3 separate regions of the Homo sapiens genome follow, and all the other regions are linked to region 2. Evidence: fine-mapped expression QTL. A gene starts in region 2. Each other region holds a variant in brackets. All regions are shown on one strand. Distances are between the middles of the regions. Region 1 overlaps PTPN1 (protein tyrosine phosphatase non-receptor type 1). Region 2 holds the start of PTPN1 (protein tyrosine phosphatase non-receptor type 1). Region 3 has its middle 39 kb from the start of PTPN1.

What was found. PIP is the estimated chance that this variant, and not a neighbour inherited with it, causes the effect.
Region 1: its variant is the best candidate, but not a certain one, in a credible set for the expression of PTPN1 in whole blood (TOPMed, PIP 0.58).
Region 3: its variant is the best candidate, but not a certain one, in a credible set for the expression of PTPN1 in blood mononuclear cells (TOPMed, PIP 0.58).

The regions. Positions count from the first base shown.
Region 1 is chr20:50,574,073-50,578,312 of GRCh38, forward strand. It overlaps PTPN1 (protein tyrosine phosphatase non-receptor type 1), which reads left to right. Exons shown (of 10, transcript NM_002827.4): 5 at 445-582. Among named protein-coding and RNA genes, the nearest start is that of MIR645, 9.6 kb to the right of the region's middle. The variant A/G (reference allele first, on the strand shown) is at 1,703.
Region 2 is chr20:50,508,525-50,512,764 of GRCh38, forward strand. PTPN1 (protein tyrosine phosphatase non-receptor type 1) reads left to right here and starts at 1,859. Exons shown (of 10, transcript NM_002827.4): 1 at 1,859-2,066. The coding sequence starts at 2,004. RefSeq lists enhancers at 1,033-1,620, 1,833-1,932 and a silencer at 1,493-1,722.
Region 3 is chr20:50,469,372-50,473,611 of GRCh38, forward strand. No RefSeq gene overlaps it. Among named protein-coding and RNA genes, the nearest start is that of PTPN1, 39 kb to the right of the region's middle. The variant C/T (reference allele first, on the strand shown) is at 1,721.

The DNA.
Region 1 (4,240 bases), 66 kb after region 2:
CTCTCCCAGTTTTATTTTTAATTGCCTGTGAGTTTTCTGTGCAGGGTAAGGCACCTACATTCTATGCCAGCAGCCTGATCAGGTCCTGGGTAATGTTTGAAATGGCTACACAGAGGAGTTTCAAAGCCTTTTGTTCAATCTGGCTTCACCTCGTAGACGGTGAGAAAGCGTCAGAGCCCTGCAGGATCCCGTTGCCACGTTTGACCGGGGAGCCGATGGGTTTGGAAGTCTGAGCCCTGTCTGCACAACCTGCCCCGGTCAGCAGCTTCGTGCCCCCACCCCCATCTCCCCATGAGGCAGGCATCTGTGCTGACCATGGCTTCCATGTTCAGAAACCCCCAGGCCTTTGAGTTATCATGAAGCTTGTGGGATGTGCTCCAAGCCTCCTGCCATAGAAAAACTGCCATATTGCTCACAATAATTCACTATTATTTGTTTCCCCAGTTAAAATGCGCACAATACTGGCCACAAAAAGAAGAAAAAGAGATGATCTTTGAAGACACAAATTTGAAATTAACATTGATCTCTGAAGATATCAAGTCATATTATACAGTGCGACAGCTAGAATTGGAAAACCTTACAGTGAGTATAGCACACACTTCAGCACTTCAGGCGGCTACTGGTTCACATGCCTCTTCCTTTATCCCTTGGGTGATATTACCTAATGTCAGTGTTCCTGGCTTTTGTATACCCCGAGCAAGATGTGGTTTGGGCACTGTGGTGAGCGGAGCTTACTTGTGTACCTACCAAGTGCCCAGGGAGGGTGGAGGCCACAGTGCTCTCTCTGACCTTTAACAACAGTTAACACCAGTTCTTAGGGAAAGGAGAGTTTCTTACCCAAAAGACTGGTTCCTGCTTGTGCAGCTGCAGAGGGACTGGAGCGGCAGCCTGCAAGTCCCAGTGAAGCATGCTGCCTTCTTTGTGGTCCTCAGTCTTCGAGTCTGAAGAGAGGGAAGAAGGGGTATAGGGGCTCACTCCAGTTTCATAGCTAGTGAAAGTTTTCTGGGCCAGGTCTTGGGTTTTTTTGTTGTGGGAAGAGTTTATAACACCAGCTACTTGCTTGGTAAAAGTTGGTCTTGGAACATGGCAAGGCATTGTGGCAAGCAGCACTGCCGCTGAACGCGCTGCTCCTGGGGCTTTGGAATAATTCCCCTGGATCCGTAACTTGGGGGTGTTCATGTCATTCTGGGGAACAGTGGAGGGAGTGCGCGGCAGCACCTGGGGGCACCAGTGAAGAGTGGCCAGCCACCAACCTCTAGAACCTAACTGGGGTCGAATCCTGGCCCCACCTTACTAGCTCATCACAGTGTCTCCGTTTCCTCTTCTGTCAAACTCAGGTTTTGCGAGGGTTCTGGGAGGTCCTATACGGGAAGGGTTAGCAGTTACCATGGGTGTGTAGCACGGGCTTTATCTGAAGGGAAGGTGGAGCCGTAGGGAGACCATGTGGAGTGGGGCTCCAGGGCTGTGTGGGTGGGGAGGGATCTGCTTCTGGGTTACCCCATGCCTCCCCTTCTCAAGTACTACTTTTTAATCATCATGGCTCCTGCCATTCATTTCATAGTTGATGTAAGCCAGGTGCGGTGGCTCACGTCTTTAATCCCAGCACTTGGGGAGGCTGAGGCCAGGAGGATCACTCGAGGCCAGGAGTTCAAGACCAGCTTGGGCAACATAGTGAGACCCCCGTCTCTACAAAAAAACAAAA[A/G]CAGTTAGTCAGACATCGTGGTGCTCCCCTATAGTCCAGCTACTCAGGAGGCTGAGGCAGGAGGATTGCTTGTGCCCGGGAGTTCAAGGCTGCAGTGAGCTATGCTTGCACCACTGCACTCTAGCCTGGGTGACAGAGCAAGACCCTGTCTCAAAAATAAATAAATAAAAAAAATAGTAGAAGTAAGATCTAGAATGTAGCACAGGTTACCAGGACGTAGGCAAGGGGTTCGGGCTGCCTGGCTCTTGAGGATGGTAGCAGTGCAGCTGATGTGAGTGCTTTCTGCCCTCTGGTGGTGACCGCGCCGGAGTCACCAGCCCTGCCATAGCCCTGATGGGGCAGAGGGTTCTGAGTACGGTGGATGGAGGTGCTTTCTGGAAGATTCTCAGGAGTAACATGGGCAGTGTGTTGGAATGTGCTAGAGGATTTATGCAGTAGCCTTTTAAAAGAATGCTTTTTAGCATTTGCAAGCCTGACATTAAGAGTGACTTCTGGGAAACTATTTGCTTGTTGAGGGAAACTGAATTTCAACAGAGCAGAAGAGCTGTGCGCTTTTTGCTTGGCAGAGTGAATACAGCCAGCTCAGAGGTTTTGATGTTAGGATCTGTTTGCTCCAACAGACTTTGTTTTTAAAAGGCTTTTCTCAGCCATAGCTGTCTGTTCTAGCACAAGGCTGGAATGAGTTCCTTGTGAAAGAGGTGAGCAGGTGTGAGGGAGGGTGTCAGTGGGCGGTAACCCACACCTTCAAGGATTAAAGGAAAACTTGCATTTGGCATGCTTGCTTCTTATTCAATTTTAAAATACATTTTAACGGCCGGGCACGGTGGCTAACACCTGTAATCCCAGCACTTTGAGGGGCTGAGGTGGGTGGTTCACGAGGCCAGGGGTTCAAGACCAGCCTGGCCAAGATGGTGAAACCCCATCTCTACTAAAAATACAAAAAAAAAAAAAATTAGCCGGGCGTGGTGGCGGGCACCTGTAATCCCAGCTACTCGGGAGGCTGAGGCAGAGAATTGCTTGAACCCAGGAGGCGGAGGTTGCATTGAGCCGAGATCATGCCACTGCATTCCAGCCTGGGCGGCAGAGCAAGACTCTGTCTCAAAATAATAATAATAATTTTTTAAAAATACATTTTAAGTCCTTTTCTTCCCCACCTGCCTCCACCCACCAAATAGAAGAGGTATTTCTTCTTCTTTAATGTCATTAAGGTTATATGGATACCATTTTCTAGAGAGGAAAGAATGATGGAATTGCCTAGTGTGAGTCTAGCAATTATCCTAACATACACAAATTTCTCCTTGTTCTGTGCCAAGATACTGTATTTAATATTTAATGAACATTAAATATTATTTACTAGTGTATTTAATGGCTGAGGCAGGGTTAAATATGTATTATTTTCATCCCAGCAGAGTTGGGGGAGGTCCTAGTAACTATGCCATGAGCTCTGTGAGGGTGAGGTGGTGTCTTTGCCCCCGCCTCCCTGGCACAGTGACTGGCACATGATTGGCATAGTGTGGACATTCGTCAAGTGAAGGAAGGCATCATGAGCAGATCTCTGGCCTGAATCCTTCTGCCATCAGCTGCTCGCCAGGTGGCCCTGGCACTGGGCCACAGGGAAACTCTCCAGGCTGGTATGGTTCCTGTCTGTGGCTGTCTTCCCGGGCCCATGTTAGGAGACTTTCACTTCCAGAGCCCTTTCCCTCTCAGGGCCTTGCTTACCAAGTGACTGGTTCCCATTTACTAGGAGCTCTTAGGTCATTGAAGATGTTGCGTACTCCCCCCAGTGAGGGCTGCCTTTTGATCACAGCCGCCAGAAGCCTCAAGGAAGGAGCAGAGCTGGAAACAGACGCCAGGCCATTGCTTCTGTTCCTCTGGGGCAGACCCAGCCACGGAAGAGACATTCTGGGACAAGGGCTGGGGTCCACCTTTCAAACGTGTCTGCAGCAGGCTCTCAGCATGGACTCTCTGCCTCCAAACATCCACCTCCTCATCGGAAAATGGATGGGAGTGCCTGCCTGGAGCAGCTGGTGGGAGAGCGCAGCGCCAGCACGTAGGACACACTCGGTTCATGGGCTGATGCCGTTCGCATTGACTGCCTCTTCAGCTGGGTGTTGAGCCACACCTTGGAGTCACCAGTCTTTGGAGACCAAGTCTGCTACTTTTTTCTCTAAAGTGACAATCCTCTGAAACCTCCAGATCATCTTGAAGCCCCCGTCTGAAAGTTGCCCAGAGCCAGTGCCTCACCTGCTGTTCCTTGTTCACTTTTTCACGGGAGGCCTTGCAGGGCTTTATGACAAGATTTTATGGGTGGCTGCCCAGCATCATTGTGACTCGTGAGACAGAGAGAAACCAGTTGTAACCATGTAGACAGTGGAAGTGATAGGGAGAAAAGAGGTGAGGGGACTCTTCAATCCGAAGGGAAATGAAGTCTAAGCAGGCGCACCCTGCAGGTTCAGTGTCAAGCCCAGGGCCTGGCCCCAGGGTGTGGTATTTGTTGACTGGGTGTGTGGACCCTGGGAGAAAGTCTGAGAATGAATG
Region 2 (4,240 bases):
GAGAATCAGCTGGAGTTGTTGGTGAAAATGCAGATTCCGGGTCTCATCCCTAGACCAAAGATATCTGAATCATTTGGCGATGGGTCCAGGAACCTGCATTATTCAACACACTTCCCAGGTGACCGTAAATGTCAAAAGACAAAATTACAACAAACTTAAACATCTTAATTGGCTTCATTCATGATTCTAGAATCGGGCAAGACTTCATTCCTCAAAATAGCACAAGTGTCCCAATGAGCTGAGCAGAGGAGGTTGGTTTTATAGACAGAAAAGGGCTGAAAAAAGCAGAAACAAAGAACAAAAAGCAGATTGGTCATTTCAAAGTTACTTTCCTTGTAAGGCAGGAACAGGGAAACAGAACAAGAGAGAAATAACTGATTGGTCGCATCGGGTTACTTCAGGTTACTTTTTGTTGTAAGGATTAAAGCAAAGGGAACTTCATTATGTTGATTAAAACGGTCTGCTTGGGAAATCAGGGTGTGTATCTCTCTTCTGATTTTGTGAAAGGTTATCAGTCTGATGATGTAGAACTTTAGCATGAGTGACTCCATTTTGATTTTTAGTCTAGTCTGTTGAGACCCTAATGCCAGAACTTTTTTTGTTTGTTTGTTTCGCTCTTGTTGCCCAGGCTGGAGTGCAGTGGAGCTATCTTGGCTCACTGCAACCTCTGCCTCCAGGGTTCAAGCGATTCTCCTGCCTCAGCCTCCCAAGTAGCTGGGATTACAGGCATGCGCCACCACGCCCGGCTAATTTTTTTTTTTTTTTTTTTTTTTAGCAGAAACCGAGTTTCACCATGTTGGTCAGGCTGGTCTCGGACTCTTGACCTCAGGTGATCCACCTGCGTCGGTCTCCCAAAGTGCTGGGATTACAGGTGTGAGCCACCACACCCAGCCCTTTTTTTTCAAGACAGGGTCTCTCTCTGCCACCCAAGGTGGAGTGCAGTGGCGCCAAAACAGCTCACTGCAGCTTCCACCTCCTGGGCTCAGGTGATCTTCCTGCCTCAGCCTCCCCAGCAGCTGGGCCCCACCACACCGGCTAATTTTTTAACTTTTAGTAGTGACGAGGTCTGATTCTGTTACCCAGGCTGGTCTGGAACTCCTGGCCTCAAGACATCCGCCTGCCTCTGCCTCCCAAAGTGCTGGGATTACAGATGTAAGCCACCGCGCCTGGGCTCCTATGATTTTTATTTAACATAATGCACCATGGAATTTGTGCTCTGCTTAGTTCAGTCTGAGCAGGAGTTCCTTGATACTTCGGGAAACACTGAAAATCATTCCATCCCCATCCATTCATTCCTGCAGCACCCAAGTGGAAATTCTGCGTTTCAGACAGGGACACTACCCTTAGAGAGCAGTGGGCTTCCCCAGCAGCGTAGTGAAACATGATACTCCTGAGTTTCATGAAAAAAGGGCAGACATCTGGCCAGAGCTGGGAGGCAGGAAATAGAGCACGGTGCCCTCCTCCCATACTCCAGCTTGGATTACTGAGGCTGGGGCCCAGGCCCTGCAGGAAAGGAGGTGCATGACTACTTTAAGGCCACTCACTCTGTGACTCAACGGGCCGGGTCGGGGCTGGAACTCAATGCCCTCCCGGGCCTGGAGAGCCCACGCGCCGTGGGCGGGGCTCCCGGGGTCGCCTAGGCAACAGGCGCGCGCCGCGCCCGAGCCCAGAGCCCCAAAGCGGAGGAGGGAACGCGCGCTATTAGATATCTCGCGGTGCTGGGGCCACTTCCCCTAGCACCGCCCCCGGCTCCTCCCCGCGGAAGTGCTTGTCGAAATTCTCGATCGCTGATTGGTCCTTCTGCTTCAGGGGCGGAGCCCCTGGCAGGCGTGATGCGTAGTTCCGGCTGCCGGTTGACATGAAGAAGCAGCAGCGGCTAGGGCGGCGGTAGCTGCAGGGGTCGGGGATTGCAGCGGGCCTCGGGGCTAAGAGCGCGACGCGGCCTAGAGCGGCAGACGGCGCAGTGGGCCGAGAAGGAGGCGCAGCAGCCGCCCTGGCCCGTCATGGAGATGGAAAAGGAGTTCGAGCAGATCGACAAGTCCGGGAGCTGGGCGGCCATTTACCAGGTGCGGGAGCGCCCCGGAGCGTGGCGGGCCCTTCGCTTAGGCCGCTTGAACATCCCCTCAGACCTCCAGGCCCCAGACTCCCTCTGGGTCTTGCCCTCTGCCTCGCTCCTACTGCTTGAGGATTCGATGGGACAGCGACGCACTGCGTCCCCCCACCCTTTGTCCCCGGGGCGGGCGTGTTTCTCGCCGCAGCGTCGGAGCCCCCTTCGATCCCCCACCTCCCTTCTGTTCTCCAGCTCGGGTGATCTCTCAAGCCGGGGGACCGCCGGTCTGTGCTCTCAACGCGAATCCCTCGCACCCCGACCCCGCCCCCTGCCTGTCCACTCTTTGTCCCCTGGGGTGATTTAGCACCCCCACTATTTCCTTTTCTGGAGTGGACCACCTCAGACTCTCTTCCTTTGTCTCCCTGGGGGAAAAGGTTACTCCCCCCGTCCCTCCTTCACATTTCCTTTCCCCTAGTCTCAGTGTGCGTCGAGTCCCAGAGATGACAGTCCCCTTTCCCCTTTCTGTTCATTCATTTATTGGATAGGAGTTGGCAAGCTTATTCTGTGCTAGGCACCGCTTAGGCATTGGAGGTGGTGTTTGCTAATCAGGACAGGCAAGATCCTAGCCTTAGTGGGGCCTAGAGTCGAATAGGGCAATCAAACACAAAAGCAAATAATTTCAGATAGTGACAGGTGCTGTGAAGAGAACGACTTCCTAACGGGGTACAGGGTGACTGCATAGAAGGCCGGCTGTCTTAGAGAAGGGGATCAGGGAAGGCCTGTCAAAGGAGGAGACATTTGCTTTGTGAGCTGAACCAAGAGGAGCAGAAAGCCGTGAGAATATGGGGCTAAAGAACCTTCTAGCCAGGAGGCCTGCGGTACCCACTCCATTGGGGCCATGATATTATTCTTTCAGGCAGGGACTCAGGAAGGTTAACGTTTTAACCCTCTCTAAAATAGCATCTTTCCTCAATGAGCAGCTTAGTCTTTGGTCGTGGCAGAGATGACCTTGTCTTAGGAGTCATCTCCTTGTGTGTTAAAAAGTTAGGAAAGGAGGGTTTCTCATATATCTATAAAACAAGTAGTTAAAAACACAAAGAGCTCTTCCTTTCACAAGCAGCTGAATAAGATACATACTCCCAATTAAATGTCATTGCGGGGGTTGTTAAGATTAACTAAAACCACACTTGCACAGTATCTTAAATAAGCGATATACAGAATAGAGAGATTTTGTTACTTGTGTAAAGGGAGACAGCAGATGATTCTGTTTTCAGCTTATAGGCTCAAAAGGCAAATTGTGAGATCCATCAGCTGTAGTATTAAAATCTATTTTGAGCTCCGCTTAGAAAGGAAAAAAGGTTTAAGCAGTTCTTTGGTATGCTTGACTAACAAAAGCCTTTTTTTTTGGCAGCCTTGATTTTCATGTGGATTTACATCAAGCTTATTTGACAGGATTCTTTTTATTTGGACTGTAGTGTGTATATTAGTTTCTGCTAGACTAATATTTCTAACCACTGTAATCTATATACTAATAAGTATGATTGATCAGTATATAAAATTTGTATGCCATATCTGGTCTCTGAATTAGCTGAATGAATTCCATAAGGGACTTTGAGACTGTGTAGACAAATTTTCTGCATCAGTTTAATGCAGTAGAGTCTAAAATGTCTTTAAATGAAAATTGTTGGTCTGAAGTGTTGGAGTTGATTATGATACACCCCATCACAGTGGAAGCATTGTGGAGAGAAGTCTTTTCCACTGAAATTGACTGAGTTGACAACAAGAAATACGTATTGTAACTTAGTTCTTAGTTGAATTTTATTTCTTACAATTTTAAGCCAGAGTGGGTTGACCTGTCACCCAAGCATGGTTAAAATTGTATTCAGCATGCAACTAGCATGGAGTGTGTCAGTCTTCAATTCATTTCCTTCATTGTTCTTAAGTTTTTCTGCCACAATTAAACCCCACAAGTTAGTCAAGGTGTTGAGATTTTCACTGCTTCTTAATGGATTGCCACATTCCCTGAGGTAGTTTCTTTTGGTCTTAGAGAATTGTCAGGGCCAGCTTTTCTCACCTCCACTGTATGGATATTTTTCTTTTCTAAGATCTTGAAATCAGAAGCTTTTCTCCTAAGTGTAAAAGTAGCTCTTTGTCATACAACTGTAGCGTTTTCTGAAACAGAGTTCAGAT
Region 3 (4,240 bases), 39 kb before region 2:
AAAATAGATTCCTGGACCTTGGCCAGTTCATTTGAAAAGCAGGATATTGGAAATCTGTAATTTTAAAAACACTCCCCTTCCTACCAGCTGTGTGACTTTGAGCAAGTCATTTAATTTCCGAGTGCTGCCATTGCCTCATCAGTGAAATGGGGACAATAATCGTACCTACCACATAGGTCTGTTGTGGGCATGAATTTATTTCATATGTGCAAAGCACTGAGCATAGTGCCTGGAACAGAGCAAGATCTCTGTGTGTGAGTTATCATTATGTCTGTTGGTGGGAGTATAGATTAATGCAAACTGGCCCGGTGCAATGGCTCACACCTGTAATCCCAGCACTTTAGGAGGCCAAGGTGGGAGGATAACTTCAGCCCAGGAGTTCGAGACCAGCCTGGGCAACATAGCTAGACCTCGTCTTTACAAAAAATTAAAAAAAAAAAAAAAATAGCCAGATGTGGTGGTGCATGTGTGTGGTCCCAGCTACTTGGGAGCCTGAAGTGGGAGGATCACTTGAGTCTAGGAGGTCAAGGCTAAAGTGAGCTGTGATTGTGCCACTGCACTCCAGCCTGGGTGACAGGGTGAAACCCTGTCTCAAACAACGTAAAACAAACAAAAAAAATGATGCAAACTTTCTGGAGGACAGTTTGTGCTATCTACCAAAGTATTAAATATGTACCCAGCAACATGGTAGCTCATCCAGGGCACAAGAATGATCATTACAGCTTACATTTATTCAACAAGTATTTATTGAGCACCTACTACAGTACTTTAGTCAGAATAAAATAGGCTATACTGCAGGGACAAAGCCAGCGTTGCAGTGACTTAATACAGCAAAGGTTCATTTCTTGCTTTTGCATTATGATACAAATTGAGTACTTTTCTCCATCTGGAACAGGCTGATGCAGGTGAATCCCAAAATCAGGGCTCAGCCTGGGAGGGTTCTTGGCTTCACTCAGGAAAGAATTCAAGAGTGAGCCAACAGTGAAAGAAAGCAAGTTTATTAGAGCAGCAGTGTGCAGCAGAGGGGCTGCTCCGTAGACAGAGCAGGGCTACTCCATAGGCAGAGCAGCCCAGAACAGCAGCAAAGACCACAGCCCAGAGCAGTAGTCCTTGCAGACCAGGGCTACCGATATTTATACCCACTCTTAATTATATGCTAATGAAGGGGCGGGTTATTCAGAATTTTCTAGAAAAGTGGCAGAGGGTTCCCAGAACTATATAAGGTAACTTCCAGGTCATTGCCATGGCATTTGCAGACTGTCCTGGTGCTGGTGGGAGTGTCTTTATGCTATGAGCAGTGAGGGCAACTAGAGGTCACTTTTGTCACCATCTGCTTGTTTCAGCGAGTTTCTTTACTGCATCCTGTTTTGATCAGCAGGGCTGTGATTTGTGCTTGGAAAATAAGTCCTACTGATCTCCTACCTCACCTTCTTTATCTGGAAAAGGAAGTCTTAGAGATGAACACTGTAGGCAAAGAGAGAGCTAGAAGGTAACATGGAATTTTTCAACGGCCAGACCTGAAAGTAGCTTCCATCACTTTTGCATATCCCATTGGGCATAAATGAGCCATGTACTTTCAACCTTACTGCAAGGAAGGCTGGGAAAGGTAGAGGAGCATGTAGATATTGAGTGAGGGGTGTCTTTGTGACATCTACTATGTTCAAAGACAGTGCTAGGAGCTGGGGCAGTCATGGGGGAGCAAGACCAACAAGGTTCCTGC[C/T]CTCATAGGTCCTCCCTTCTAATGAGGGAGATAGACAATAAACCTCTGCTCTAAACATGATCCCAGATATATGTCATTTTGCACTTGAGCAAGAATATCTGATGGATACATTTTCAGAATCTGTGGCTGCTGCGTCAAAGGGTATATATATTTGTCATTTCAACAGATATGGTCAAATTGTCCTCCATAGGACTGTGCCAATTTCCACCTCCACCATCAAGGTACAAAAGTGCTTTTTTTTGCCTGCAGGCTTGCCAACACAGTGTGTTATCAGACTTTTGGATTTTTGCCAATCTGATAGGCGAGAAATGATCTCTGTGTACTTTTAATTTGCATTTTTCTTATTATAAAGGAAGTTGAACATCCTTTCACATGTTTATGAGCTATTTGTATTTCCTTTTCTGTGTACTTGTGTGTACATATCCCTCATCCATTTTCCTCTGAGTCATTGATTGAGGATATTACTAAATGAAAAAGTGAAGGGACAGAACAGAATGCATAGTAGAATCATTTTTGTAAATGAAAAGTGAAACAATATGTTGGCATATACATATAAATATACTCGCATAGGCATAAAAATTTTCTAGAAGCAGCCAGGCGCGGTGGCTCACGCCTGTAATCCCAGCACTTTGGGAGGCCAAGGTGGGTGGATCACTTGAAGCCAGGAGTTCAAGACCAGCCTGGCCAACATGGTGAAACCCTGTTCCTACTAAAAATACAAAATTAGCTGGGCATGGTGGTGCGCACCTGTAATCCCAGCTACTCAGGAGGCTGAGTCAGGAGAATCACTTGAGCCCAGGAGGCGGAGGTTGCAGTGAGCTGAGATTGCGCCATTGCACTCCAGCCTGGGTAACAAGAGCAAAACTCCACCTCAAAAAAAAAAAAAAAAGAAGGTGTAAACAACTACAGATGTCCACCATGAACACCTCCTGTGTGCAAGGCACTGTGGAAGCTGCTGGGAATACAATGGTGAACAAGATGTGTGTGGTCCCTGCCCTCAAGGAGCTAACATCTTAGAGGGTGAGAGAAGAAGGGCAAATTAACAAATGTTTTAGGTCAGGCGCGGTAGCTCACACCTGTAATCCGAGCACTTTGGGAGGCCTAGGTGGGTGGATTGCTTGAGCCCAGGAGTTCGAGAATAGCCTGGCAAAATGGCAAAACCCCATCTCTACAAAAAATACAAAAATTGGCCAGGCATGGTGATGCATGCCTATAGTCCCAGGTACTGGGGAGGCTGAGGTGGGAGAATCACTTGAGCCCAAGAAGTTGAGGCTGCAGTGAGCCATGATCATGCCACTGCACTCCAGCCTGGGCATCAGAGCGAGATCCTGTCTCAAAAGAAAAGAAAAGACCAACAAATCAGTGGGAAAATGGTCAAAAAAAGATCAAAAAGAGGAAAAAGCAAATGGCTCTTAAGCATACCAAAAGATGCTCAGTTTTGGCCAGGCACAGTGGCTCACGCCAGCACTTTGGGAGGCCGAGGAGGGCGGATCACCCGAGGTTGGGAGTTCAAGACCAGCCTGACCAACATAGAGAAGCCCTGTCTCTACTAAAAATACAAAATTAGCCAGGTGTAGTGGTGCATGCTTGTAATCCCAGCTACTTGGGAGGCTGAGGCAGGAGAGTCGCTTGAACCCGGGAGGCGGAGGTTCCAGTGAGCCAAGGTCACACCATTGCACTCCTGCCTGGGCAACAAGAGTGAAACTCCGACTAAAAAAAAAAAAGCTCAATTGCATGTATAAAAAGAGAAATGAGATACCATTTCCTACCACCACCCCGCCCCCACCATTGCACTGGTTTAACCAAAGTCTCAAATTGACAATCCACTGTGTTGGTAAGGGTGTCAGAAAATGAGCACACGCAAACTGATGCGACTCCACATGAAGAGGACTTTGGCATTATTCATTAAGTTTAAAATGACCATAGCTGTTACCAAGGCAATTCTGCTTTTAGGAGTTCATCCTACAGATTTATTCACACACAGCATGGACGCATAACATTTTAAGGGAATGGGGAGGAACAGAATATATATTCACATTTGCTTGTACATGCATAAACCATCTTAGAAAGATATGCAATGGACTAATAACTGATTGTGGGAAGGAACAGCATATGCAAAAGGCCCCAAGCTGAAAAAGAGGTTGGTGTATTTCAGGAACTAAGAGTGTGCCTGGGAAGGATGACATGTGACAAGTGGTGGCCTGAGGCTGCTGAGCCTTGTAGATCACCACTTAGGAGTCTGGTCTTGAGTCCAAATGCAGTGGGAAGACATTCAAAAGAAGATGATCTGATTTCCATTTTAAAAGCATCTTGCTGCCATTTGGAGAAACTACTGGAGGAAGGCAAGACGCAAGTCAGGAGACTGATTAGCAGGCTGGACAGTTCCCTGAGGGAGGGACAGGGAGCGGGTGGCTGCACCTGAGAGGTGGCAGTGGTGAAAACGAGCAGGCAGATTGAAGACAGTTTGAAATTGCAATGGATGAGTTGGATGTGGCCCAGGAGGGGTAACAGAGCAGACTC